3 linked regions of the Homo sapiens genome follow. The protein of the gene in region 2 purifies or fractionates together with the protein of the main gene of each other region. This does not show direct contact. Each region holds a gene or a part of one and is shown on either strand. Other genes may lie near its edges. The genes, in order: OGDHL, KMT5B and CARS1.

What was found.
Region 1: the proteins of KMT5B (region 2) and OGDHL purify together in Homo sapiens (affinity purification with mass spectrometry; one large-scale study listed by BioGRID and IntAct). This does not show direct contact.
Region 3: the proteins of KMT5B (region 2) and CARS1 purify together in Homo sapiens (affinity purification with mass spectrometry; one large-scale study listed by BioGRID and IntAct). This does not show direct contact.

What each region holds. Positions count from the first base shown.
Region 1 is NC_000010.11:49,755,723-49,759,371, forward strand, and holds part of OGDHL (2-oxoglutarate dehydrogenase-like, mitochondrial), read right to left. Parts: intron 2,872-3,649; 5' UTR 2,871-2,871; coding exon 2,667-2,870; intron 1,225-2,666; coding exon 1,054-1,224; exon of another isoform or gene 743-1,053; intron 1-742.
Region 2 is NC_000011.10:68,171,797-68,175,445, reverse strand, and holds part of KMT5B (histone-lysine N-methyltransferase KMT5B), read left to right. Parts: intron 1-262; coding exon 263-428; intron 429-1,532; coding exon 1,533-1,642; intron 1,643-3,649. UniProt on the Homo sapiens protein: Histone methyltransferase that specifically methylates monomethylated 'Lys-20' (H4K20me1) and dimethylated 'Lys-20' (H4K20me2) of histone H4 to produce respectively dimethylated 'Lys-20' (H4K20me2) and trimethylated 'Lys-20' (H4K20me3) and thus regulates transcription and maintenance of genome integrity.
Region 3 is NC_000011.10:3,050,869-3,054,517, reverse strand, and holds part of CARS1 (cysteine--tRNA ligase, cytoplasmic), read left to right. Parts: intron 1-3,649. UniProt on the Homo sapiens protein: Catalyzes the ATP-dependent ligation of cysteine to tRNA(Cys).

The sequences.
Region 1 (3,649 bases), on a different chromosome or scaffold from region 2:
TCGTCTTGGTTAATCAAAGAACAAAGAGCTACTGAAGGGCTGAGATCTGTGCTTAGAAGATAAGGCCCTCGGGCAGCACCCTGAACGTTTCCCTGTATTTAATATACAGTTTTACATCCTTGTTCTTCATTTTTGAAGTCAAGGGTTAGATCACTGTCTGCTTCTTTCAGCCAGCCAGGAAAGACACAATACACAATAGCTGCTGTTTGCTCCTAGGTGGCCCACAATTGATGGGTCCTCAGGCCAGAAGGGAACCCAACCCTGCTCACCTTCCCTCTTCCATCCCCAGGTGGGTGGTGTACAGGGAACTCTGTTCCATCCCACAGATTGGGCAGCTCATTCAGAGGCAAAGCATCATTTCCATTTGCTAATGCCCCCCTGTACCCTAGCCTTGCTGTGGCTTGCTGCTGCCTCACATTTCCCTGACGGAATACCTCCTGCCAGCAGTTCCCAGAGATATTCCAAATGATTACGCTTGTTATGGCCTGAACACCGCAGCAGTCCTCCAATTAGTCCTGTCTGGTCAAGACCAAAAACACACACCATCACTGGGACTCTGACAGAGCAGGGGCCCAGCATGGGAGAGCCTAAGTCTCCAGGAGGAGCAACTGGTGGGGGAGAATTGTTTACTGAACCATTCATTCCATAAACATGAATTAGGCACCTGCTGTATCAGTCCCTGTTCTCCCAGGATGCCCATTCTAGAGGAGAAAACAGAATTAACAAGGGTTAATCTACTCACCCCTCATTCAACAGGCTTTGGAATTGATCCCTTACTAAGTGCTCCTCCACGTACTCGGGGCATGGTGTGTGCAAGGAACAGACCACAAGGACACAAGTCAGTATGCACAAAAAAAAATTCAAGCAGGTGGTAAGTGCTCTGAATGGTGATGTGGCAAAGACTGGCTAGAGGAGTAGGTGCCGCTCAGTAGAGGACAAGGAGAAGGGCTCTCTGGGGAGATGATGTTGGAGCTGAGACCCCTTCCCTTCAGTGCCTGGCCACACCCCAGGAGCCAGTGCAGCCTCCCAGGCTGTGCCTCAGCTGCCCCTCACCTGGTAGGCCCGGATCAGGGACTGCACAGCCAGGTGGTCCTCCACCAATTTGCTGGTCTTGGTCCGACTTGAGACTGCAGACCTGCTCTCATGGACAACAGAAGGGGGCCGTGGCTGAGCAGAGCCAGAAAAGGCTTCCTCGCTGGCTTCCCTGAAGAAGCTGTCCCAGGACTAGGCAGGGCAGAAACAAGAACGCAGCCAGGTCAGGGCCTGGGAAGAGTCAGGGGTGGCCCAGGCTGGGGCCCCAAGGAGTGTCAGGTCTTCCTTGAGGACCACAGCTCTCAGGGCCTTCCCAGGGTGCCTAGATGTACATACAACGATGTTCCCTGCAGAACTGTTTACAAAAATTGACAATGTGAAAACAACCTACATGGCTATCCATAGAAAACTGGCTAAATAACGATTTTACATTTAGAATCTGGAAGATTACACAGTCTTTTAAAAAGGTGCTTTCAGTATTGTGGACATGGAATATTGCCAAGATACGTTTTAAAGTGAATGAAGCAGAAGAGGATGTATGGCTGCTACTCTCTGTGTAGAAGCAAAAAGCAGATGTGAACACACACAGGCATTTGCATGTGTTTTCCATAAGAACAATGTAAAAGCGCTTTCCTCCGTGCACTCCCATACGGCACTGGTGGGAGACTCAGTTGGTACAATCCCCATGGAAAGCAACTTGGCAATACCCATCAAAATTATACACAGCCACTCCTGGACCCAACTATTCCACTTTGGGGAATTTACCCTACAGATGGCTCTGCAGGTGCAAGATGATGAAGGTGTAAGATGATGCACTGCAGCACTGTTCGCCACAGTCAGAGACTAGAAATGAACCAGATGTCCATCAGCAGGAATAGGGGTGGCACATACATGCAATGGAATACTACACAGCTGGACAGAGTGAATAGTGAGGCTCTTCATGTACTGATATGGAAAGATCTTGGAGATACATCACCAAGCGAAAACAGCAGGGAGCAAAACAGTATGTGTTACAGGTTACTTTTGCGTAAAGGGAGACAAATCCAGAGTTACATTTGCAGTAAGTTTACCTAATGCAAGTCTTGGAAAGGATATAGAGGACACTAAGTTGGGGGACAGTGGGAACTGAGCAGATGAGGATAGATTAGGAGGGAGCTTTCTGACTGTGTAACTTCTTATACCTTCTGGCTTTGGATCATGTGACTGCACTGCTTTCCACTGCAGGTGAAGGGGTCAGAGAACAACTTCACTTTTCACCCTCCCATCTAATTTAATTTTTTTCTTTACTATCAGCAAGTATTTATTTTATCAGATCAATACATACACAAACACGTATGTCCCTAATTACATACAAAGGAGCATATGGAGGCAGCATAGCACGACAAAGGGGGCACGGCAGGGCTCAGGTGTGGCTGAGCAGGACATGGCCAGGGCCTCTCAATCAAAACCACCACCCACTGGCTGATTCAGCAAAGGGAAAGCAACAGGCTTTGATGACTGAGGACCTGAGAGGCAAAGAAACCTGCCCAGGATCACACAGCAGGCAAGCTGCTTCTCCCCACTGCCCTGCCACAGCCCGGCCCCCGAGGGCTTCCCTCCCTTGCGGTGGCCCAGGGTAGGGTGGGGATGCTGACCTTGTGGACACTCTGGGGGTTTTCCAACCAGGCGAAGTACATCTCCTCCATGTAACTGGAGCCGCCTCCACCTTTGCTGCTTGGGAAGGTGGCCGGTGGCCCGGAGGACCTGCTGCGCCAGCCAAACACCGGGACGTCATGTGCAGCCAGGAGCCTCGCAGCCTGTACCCCAAGACGGGACGGCAGCAGCCTCAGCTGACTCATTCTGGACACAGGCAATGAAGGAGAGGCATAAATGGCAGGACCAAGACAGGAAGAGGCTCTACCAAGCCACTGTCCGCTCATCAGCACTTGTCATTCCCACTGGGCAGATGGTGCTGGGCTAGGCAGTGATGAGACTGGGAATGTGACACTCTCCCAGCCCCCTGGGCTTACTGTCTGGTGGAAGCTCCCAGCTCAGTAAACTCTATCAATAGATATCAAACAGCCCTGAGCCCCAGCCCTGCTGTGCCACACTCATCCCAGACCACACTCCTTCCCGGATAGTCCCCAAAGCCTGTGCAGAGACATGAACTCCCCAGGCCCTGCCTCAGGGAGCACCCACCTAGGTCCTGGAGCCCACTCGGAGAGCCACAGGGCAGGTGCAGGGAGTACCACCAAGAAGGAGTGGGTCTCAGGCCCACCACCCTAGAACCAGGGCAGGCAGTCCTCCAGGGGTCAGGTGTGTTGTGCATGGTCAGGGAAAAGCAGGGGCAAAAGCATCCAGTGAGCACAGGTGTCGGGGGTGATAGAGGCACACTATCTCAGGAGGGCTGTGGCTCTAGTCATTGCGACCAAAAGTGACCAGTGACTCCCTGTGACTGCAATCCTGGGCCAGAGTGCCCTCTCTCCCAGGCCCAGCCAGAAGGCTGGTGACACTAGGCCCAACAATAGCCCCACTTCATTGCAGGAAGGGCTAAGGTCTGGAGGGGCAGGAAGAGTAGAATGGAAGGCAGCCCCAGGCCCAGCCCAGCGCCACTCAAGACAGCTAACAGTCCAGGCAG
Region 2 (3,649 bases):
AAAAAGAGAAGTTACTGAGATAACAGTGAAATAAAAATATTAAAATAACAGATTGAAAAAAGAGAACTTGCGTATCCAGGTGATCAGTATTACTTGAATAGTAGTAATCAAGACTATTGATTGTTGTTCTCTTCTCTTAGATCTTTGCTCTGATAACCATGGCTGTTTTTAGGGTATTAGCTCTTTCTCAAGATCTGTTAAGATGGATCAGTGGCGCAAGGATTGTGGCAGATAACCCATTCATTCTTTTGATTTCTTTCAGATTTAGGCCTATTAAAGGAAGGCAGGAAGAACTAAAGGAAGTAATTGAACGTTTTAAGAAAGATGAACACTTGGAGAAAGCCTTCAAATGTTTGACTTCAGGCGAATGGGCACGGCACTATTTTCTCAACAAGAATAAAATGCAGGAGAAATTATTCAAAGAACATGTAAGTTTATTAAGACTGATGCTGTTAACCTATTTGGATAAGAATAGTGAAGTAAATTAAAACCCTAAATGTTAGTTAATACTGAAATTTTAAATTTATTTTTCATAAAACTAATCAGTCTGAAGATCTTGTAACACATACAGTCATTTGGATGACAGTCCAGAGAAAAAACTGGGCCAGGCTCAGTGGCTCATGCTTGTAATCCCAGCACTTTGTGGGGGCTAAGATGGGAGTATTGCTTGAGGCCAGGACTTCGAGACCAGCCTGGGCAACATAGCAAGACTCCATCTCTAAAAAAATAAGAATAAAAAAATTAGCTAGGCATAGTAGTGTGTACCTTTGTAGTTTGTAGTTCCGGCTACTCAGGAAGCAGAGCCAGAAGCATTGCTTGTGCCCAAGAGTTAGAGGCTGCTCTGAGCTATGATCATGCCACTGCGCTCCAGCCCTGGGAGACAGAGCAAGACCCTGTCTCTAAAACCAAAAAAGGAGAGAAAACTTTGTCATATAGAGGTGAAATTCATTATGAGCCTTAAGGGAAACAAGCCATTAGGTACTCATACAGAGTGAGTACCCTTAACCCCAAAATTTGAAATGCTCCAAAATCTGAAACTTTTTGAACACCGACCTGACACTCAAAGGAAATGCTCATGGGAGGATTTTGAATTTTTTGTTTAGAGGTGTTCAGCTAGTTACTGTAATGCAAATATTGCAAAATGAGAAAAATTGTGACATTCAAAACTCTTGAGTAACAATAAAGTTTGTTACCTAATGATCTTACTTTTTTTGTTTATTTTATTGTTTTTTTAGAGGCAGAATCTTGCTCTGTCACCCAGGCTGGAGTGCAGTGGCCTGATTATGGCTCACTGCAGCTTCCATCTCTTGGGCTCAAGTGATTCTTCCTCTCAGCCTCCCACGTAGCTGGCACTAAAGGTACATGCCATCATGCTTGGCTAATGTTTTTCGTAGAGACAGGGTCTCGCTATGTTGCTCAGGCTAGATCTTACATTTTTTTCATCATTGCGGGTGGTTTGCTTTTATAATTGTAAGAAAGTCTAGCAGGGTATACCATTTAAAGTCATTATCAATTTTTTTTTCCTGTTTTAGGTATTTATTTATTTGCGAATGTTTGCAACTGACAGTGGATTTGAAATATTGCCATGTAATAGATACTCATCAGAACAAAATGGAGCCAAAATAGTTGCAACAAAAGAGTGGTAACTATTCTACTAGTATAAGCCTTTAATTTAATTTAAAGTTCTCTTCTAAATTATTGTTGAAGTGCTGAGAAATTCATGGTAAGGAATGAAGCCAGAGTTTACCCTGAAGTAGCCAATGCATCGCCGTTGCCTTGGCCCATCAGCTGGAGTCAGAGTGGGGAAATCGGAAGTCTCAGTTGAACCAGATCCCATCTCTAGGCCAAATTGCTTTTCATTTTCCTTTATTGACTCTGGATGCCTGTTCAGTGATATGATTGCTGAAGAGTTGTGGATACCGTGATTAGATAACCTGGCTTCCACAGTCAGTCTTCTACTGGCCTAGAAGAAAGGTTGGGGCTAAAGTTTTAATGATCCTAGTTTTATGGGTGGAAACCTCCCTAAAGCATTAGTTGCTTAAAAATACATACATACAGATATATATATATGTATATATGCCAGCTTCAATAAAAATAGTAGAGTTGGTGGGGGGCATTGGCTCACGCCTATAATCCCAGCACTTTGGGAGGCCGAGGCAGGCAGATCACTTGAGGTCAGGAGTTCAAGACCAGCCTGGCCAACATGGTGAAACCCCATCTCTACTAAAAATACAAAAATTAGCTGGGCGTGGTAGCACACACCTGTAGTCCTAGCTACTCGGGTGGCTGAGGCAGGAGAATCACTTGAACCCAGGAGACAGAGGCTATAGTGAGCTGAGATCGCGCCACTGCACTCCAGCCTGGGCAATAGAGTGAGACTCTATCTCAAAATTAAGTCAGAGTTGAGCCCAGCTAAAAGGGATAAAAGTTACAGATGAAAGAGAATATACTACTGTATCTTCTTTCCTATCATGCCTGTTCCCTATGTTATCTCCCAGGAAAAACATGTAGCTCCTCATGTACCCACCCTCTGATATTTCTACCACAAAAATTTGGGGGGTCAGATATCTGAAAATGGATAGGTAAAAGAACTTTATTGCCAGGCCTCTGGGGTGAGTGTGTGTACATGAAATGTGCTTCATTTACCTCAGGATGTATTGAGCCTGCTAGTTGGATTATGTGGCTCCCTGTGTTGCAGATGGGTGTGTAGGTTTGAGATCTAGAGTCCTAGAGCTGTACCGTCCGGTACAGTAGCCACCAGCCCTTGAGTCCTTGAAATGTAGCTAGTCTGAATTGAGAAGCGCTGTAAGTGTGCTATACACACCAGATTTCATATTAAATTTTATTCCCATTCATAGTTCTTATATTACCTACTGAAATCGTATTTTGGATATTGGGTTAAAATATATTGTTGGCTGGGCATGGTGGCTCATCTGTAATCCCAGCACTTTGGGAGGCTGAGGTGGGCGGATCATGACGTCAAGAAATCGAGACCATCCTGGCCAACACGGTGAAACTCCATCTCTAGTAAAAATACAAAAAAAAAAAATGAGCTAGGTGTGGTGGCACACACCTGTAGTCCCAGCTACTTAGGCTGAGGCAGGAGAATCACTTGAACTCAGGAGGCAGAGGTTGCAGTGAGCTGAGATCACGCCACTGCACTCCAGCCTGGGCAACAGAGCGAGATTCCGTCTCAAATAAAATAAAATAAAATAAATTGTTAAAGTAATTTCACCTATATTCACTTAACTTTCTCAATGTGGCTGCTAAAAAATTTAAGATTGAAAATTTGGCTTGCATTATATTCCTAGCAGATGGTGTGCTCTAAAGAGTGGCACCATGATTCCGGATCCTCATAACCCTTACTGCCACTGGTCCCTGCCTGCTTCATCCAGCAGTCAGAAAGTTTAATTCATTGCCGCAAGTATTTGAGTACTTTCTGCTTGCAAAACACCACACCAGGGCATTCAGAGACATAGGTGGCATAGTCCCTGTCCTGGTTGAGTTTCCATTCTCTTGCAGGAATAAGATAGGTACACAAGTAACCATGGCACAAGGCTGTGGAGCTCCAGGGTAGGAGAGAAGATAGCCAGGTGGGGATCCCAGTGAGCTAACTAAAGTATAGACAGCTAGGCCTTTTCAGTTTCTG
Region 3 (3,649 bases), about 65 Mb from region 2:
AGAATAAAGCTGATGCCCTTCGATGTTTTCCCCAGAGCCACATGAAATGTTTGCTCCTCTATGAACTCAGGTACCATGTTTCCGGGTATTTGAAGAGCCTTAGGCAGTACCCTTGGGGTGGAGATTAAGCCATTTCCAGTGTGGGTGCTCTGGGTGGCAATATTGCTGTCTGATCACCCCACAGGCTCATTGTGAGGGATGTTGGATGCCCCTAATAATGAATAACCTCCCTCCCAGTAAGGAGGAAGATGGAGATGCTGTTCTTGGGGGTGAGAGAGGATGCCTGGGGGCCACCTTTGTGAACGAGTTGCAGCTGGACCTCCGGGGCTGGTGATCAGGACGGGGAGTGGGAGGGGAAGCCCTCACCTGTGGGAGGAGGCGCTGGTCTCTGGGAGTGGGCAGTGTTGGCTCCTAGTTGGTGAGAGCAGGGGTGCATGCCCCTCTCTCCTCCCCACGATTCATGTCTGGGGGCTTTTTCCGGTCCCCTTTCTGAACACTTCTTGGGCAGGGAGTGGATCACTGGGAAGGACCCAAGAGGAGCAGCTGTAGAGGGTGGGACCAGGGGAACATTTGCAGAAAGGGAGTAACCTGCAGGGTGAGATGTTGCCTGGACACCCACAAGATGAGGACCCTGGTGGGACCTTTGAAGTAGCAGGGTCAGAGGGCAAAGGGTCAGGGTGAGTGAGGGGTGCAGACCCCCACCAAACCGGGGCACTTATTAGGAGCTCAGACCTGCTGTAAAGGGGTCTGCATTTTAGCAAGCTTTCCACCCATGGGGAAGCTGGTTTAAACCTCACTTGCTGGGCCCACCCCAGAGATTCTGATTTGGCAGGTCTCTGGTGAGCCCAAGAATGTGACTTCTCTGGATCCCCCAGGTTCTGCTGCTGAAGGCACACCAGGGCCATGCCTGGAGTGGACCTGGGAGAGCCTCAAGGGAACGCAGGAAGAGAAACAGGGCAGCCGGGAGAGGTTTAAATGCTTACAGGAGGCCAGGCATGGTGGCTCACGTCTGTAATCCCAGCACTTTGGGAGGCCGAGGTGGGTGGATCACCTGAGGTCAGGAGTTCTAGACCAGCCTGGCCAATATGTAGAAACCCCGTCTCTACTAAAAATACAAAAATTAGCTGGGCATGGTGGCGGGCACCTGTAATCCCAGCTACTCGGGAGGCTGAGGCAGGAGAATCGCTTGAACCCGGGAGGCAGAGTTTGCAGTGAGCCGAGATCATGCCACTGCACTCCAGCCTGGGTGACGAGCGAGACTCCGTCTCAAAAAATAAAATAAAATAAAATAAAATAAAAATAAATAAAAAATAAATGCTGATAGGAAAGAGCCAGAGAGAGGGAGAGGTCGCACTGCCACAGTTGTTTGACGTGTCAGGGTTGTTGTTCATTTGGTGTGGCTTTGTTTTGGTATCTGTGCTGAGCAATTGCTTGGTACTTGCATGTGATTTCAATAAATGTTCTGTAGAGACTCCACCTTTGTAGCCGGTGACAACCACCATCCACCTTTGGGACATTCCCATGTCCCTCAATGTGTTGATGAACTGAACTGCAAGGTCATCCGGTGGTGGACATTCCTTCTCATGGGGGCAGAGCAGGAGTTTCGGCACGGAGCGTGCAGGCTCTACGATGAGGGCCAGTGTCGAGGAACAGGTCCCTGGGAGGTTTTCAGTCTGCTCAGAAGTGTTCTCATCTGATCTCAGCATCAGACTGATCCACAGCCTGGCTCAAACCCATGACCACTTGAAAGCTGACCTATTTTTATTTGTTTCCTCGAGACACACTTAAATGCAGCTACCACGATTACCCAAATGACTGTCTGCGTCCATCTCATGGAAGCCTGTCATTCTCCTGTGCTTCCCTGGGCACCAGCACCTTTCTGCTCTGAGAAGATCCTTCCCAAGCATGGTCTTGGTTCCCTTTTGATGAGCCGTCTAGCCTGCTCTAGACGGTACATTTAAGAATTATGTGATCCAAGATCAAGGCAGATTTGGTAATAAACTTTTAAAATAATAAAATTAATTAAATAAAAATGGGTGTGTGAGCCCTAGGAAAACTCCAGGAAATTCTCTGTGTGTAGCATGCGGCTATTACAATAACATTAATAATACCAGAGCGATTATGATAATAATGATGGCAAATGGGGCCCCTGGCTCTGTGCCAGGCAGCTTTTAAACATTTTACAAGTGTCATTTGACTTAATGGCCTGCAGCTTTACAGGGCTGATGTTATGAGCGTGTTTTACCGTGAGGAAATGCCGCCGTGTGTGTGAGTGTAGGTACTCAGCCCTGGAGGGCGTCGGGGCCGCCCCTCAGGTCTCCAGAGAGCGGATACACAGCGGCTTCAGTTCCCAGACTGCTTCCTCAGCGCTCAAAAGCCACTGCAGCCGCCGTTAGGACATTTGATGTTTTTCTCATTTTAAAAATAGCAGATGCTTACTGCAGAAAATGTGAGCAATGAAGAAAAAGAGGGAATTAAAATCACCTGTCACCCCCTCTCATCAACCATCGTCACTGTCAGTGTTCGGGCTGTTGCTGGTGGTCTCTCCATCAGAATCCATTCTGAGTGTGAGAGGCACGTGACTGTCAGCTCGCTGTCTCAGCTGGAAGCCGATGCTGTGTCACTGTTTCTCAGGGTGCTGCTGTTGTCTCTTCTTCCCTCTTGCTGTCGTGGAGTCCAACCCAGGCATGAGCAGTTGCAGAAGACCAAGGCTCAGGGAGGGGACAGGGGAGAGGAATGTGGAGGGTCAGCATTGGGGAACAGCTTTCGAACTGTGGCCTGATCTGTGAGGGGACAAGGCTCACCTTCCAGCTCTGTCCATCCCTCTGGCAAGTTCTCTAATCTTTAGTGAACTTCATTTTCTTTATCATGAAATGGGACCCCTGCTGGCAGCTGCAGAGCTGTTGGAGGGAAATATCCAGCTAAACTAGAAGTCTCCTGGCTGGAAGTTGCTCTGCAAAAGAGTTTGTAGGAGTCTGATATTTATTTAGAGTTAGTTTTCCAGGACCTCACTTTGGGGTGCTTGGAGCTGCCTCTGTGGGTCTGCCTCCGCCTCCGTCCTCCCTGATCTCATCTCCAGCTGGGAGGAGAGCGCATCTCCATGTAAGCAGCCTCCTTCTTCTCAGAGGGAAGCCCCGGCAGTGTCAGTGCTGACACTGGGCCTGTAACTGTGGGGATGGGGCAGGTGAGAGGCCCTCAAGAGCTCCCGGCACCCCCCAGGCGCCTTCAGTGGGGCCAGAGTCCACCCCTGTCTTTCTCTTTCCTTGGACTGTTGGAAGAGCTGAAGTGAAAAGTGACTTGTTCTTATGTCTCTGGTATCTTTGGGCAGCAGGGCTCCTGCTAAGCAAGCCCCTGGGGGCTCAAAGCAGCAGAGGCTGTGGCCGGTTCCCAGCACTGGTCCTTGTGCAGGTGTCTTTCTGAGAAGGGTGCATGAGGCCCAGTGCCACAGGGGAACGCCAGCCCACCACTGGTGGCATGCACTCTGTGGTGCCATTCTGCTGTCCACTCATCTGTGCCCTAGGCAACTTTAGCTGATATCTGGAATGTCACACGCTCAGTTGTAGATGCTGAAGATCGAGCAGTGAATAAGGTAGATGGAGCGGTGGGGCAGATGGTGAAGGAAAGAAATGCGGGCACGTGTTAGACAGGG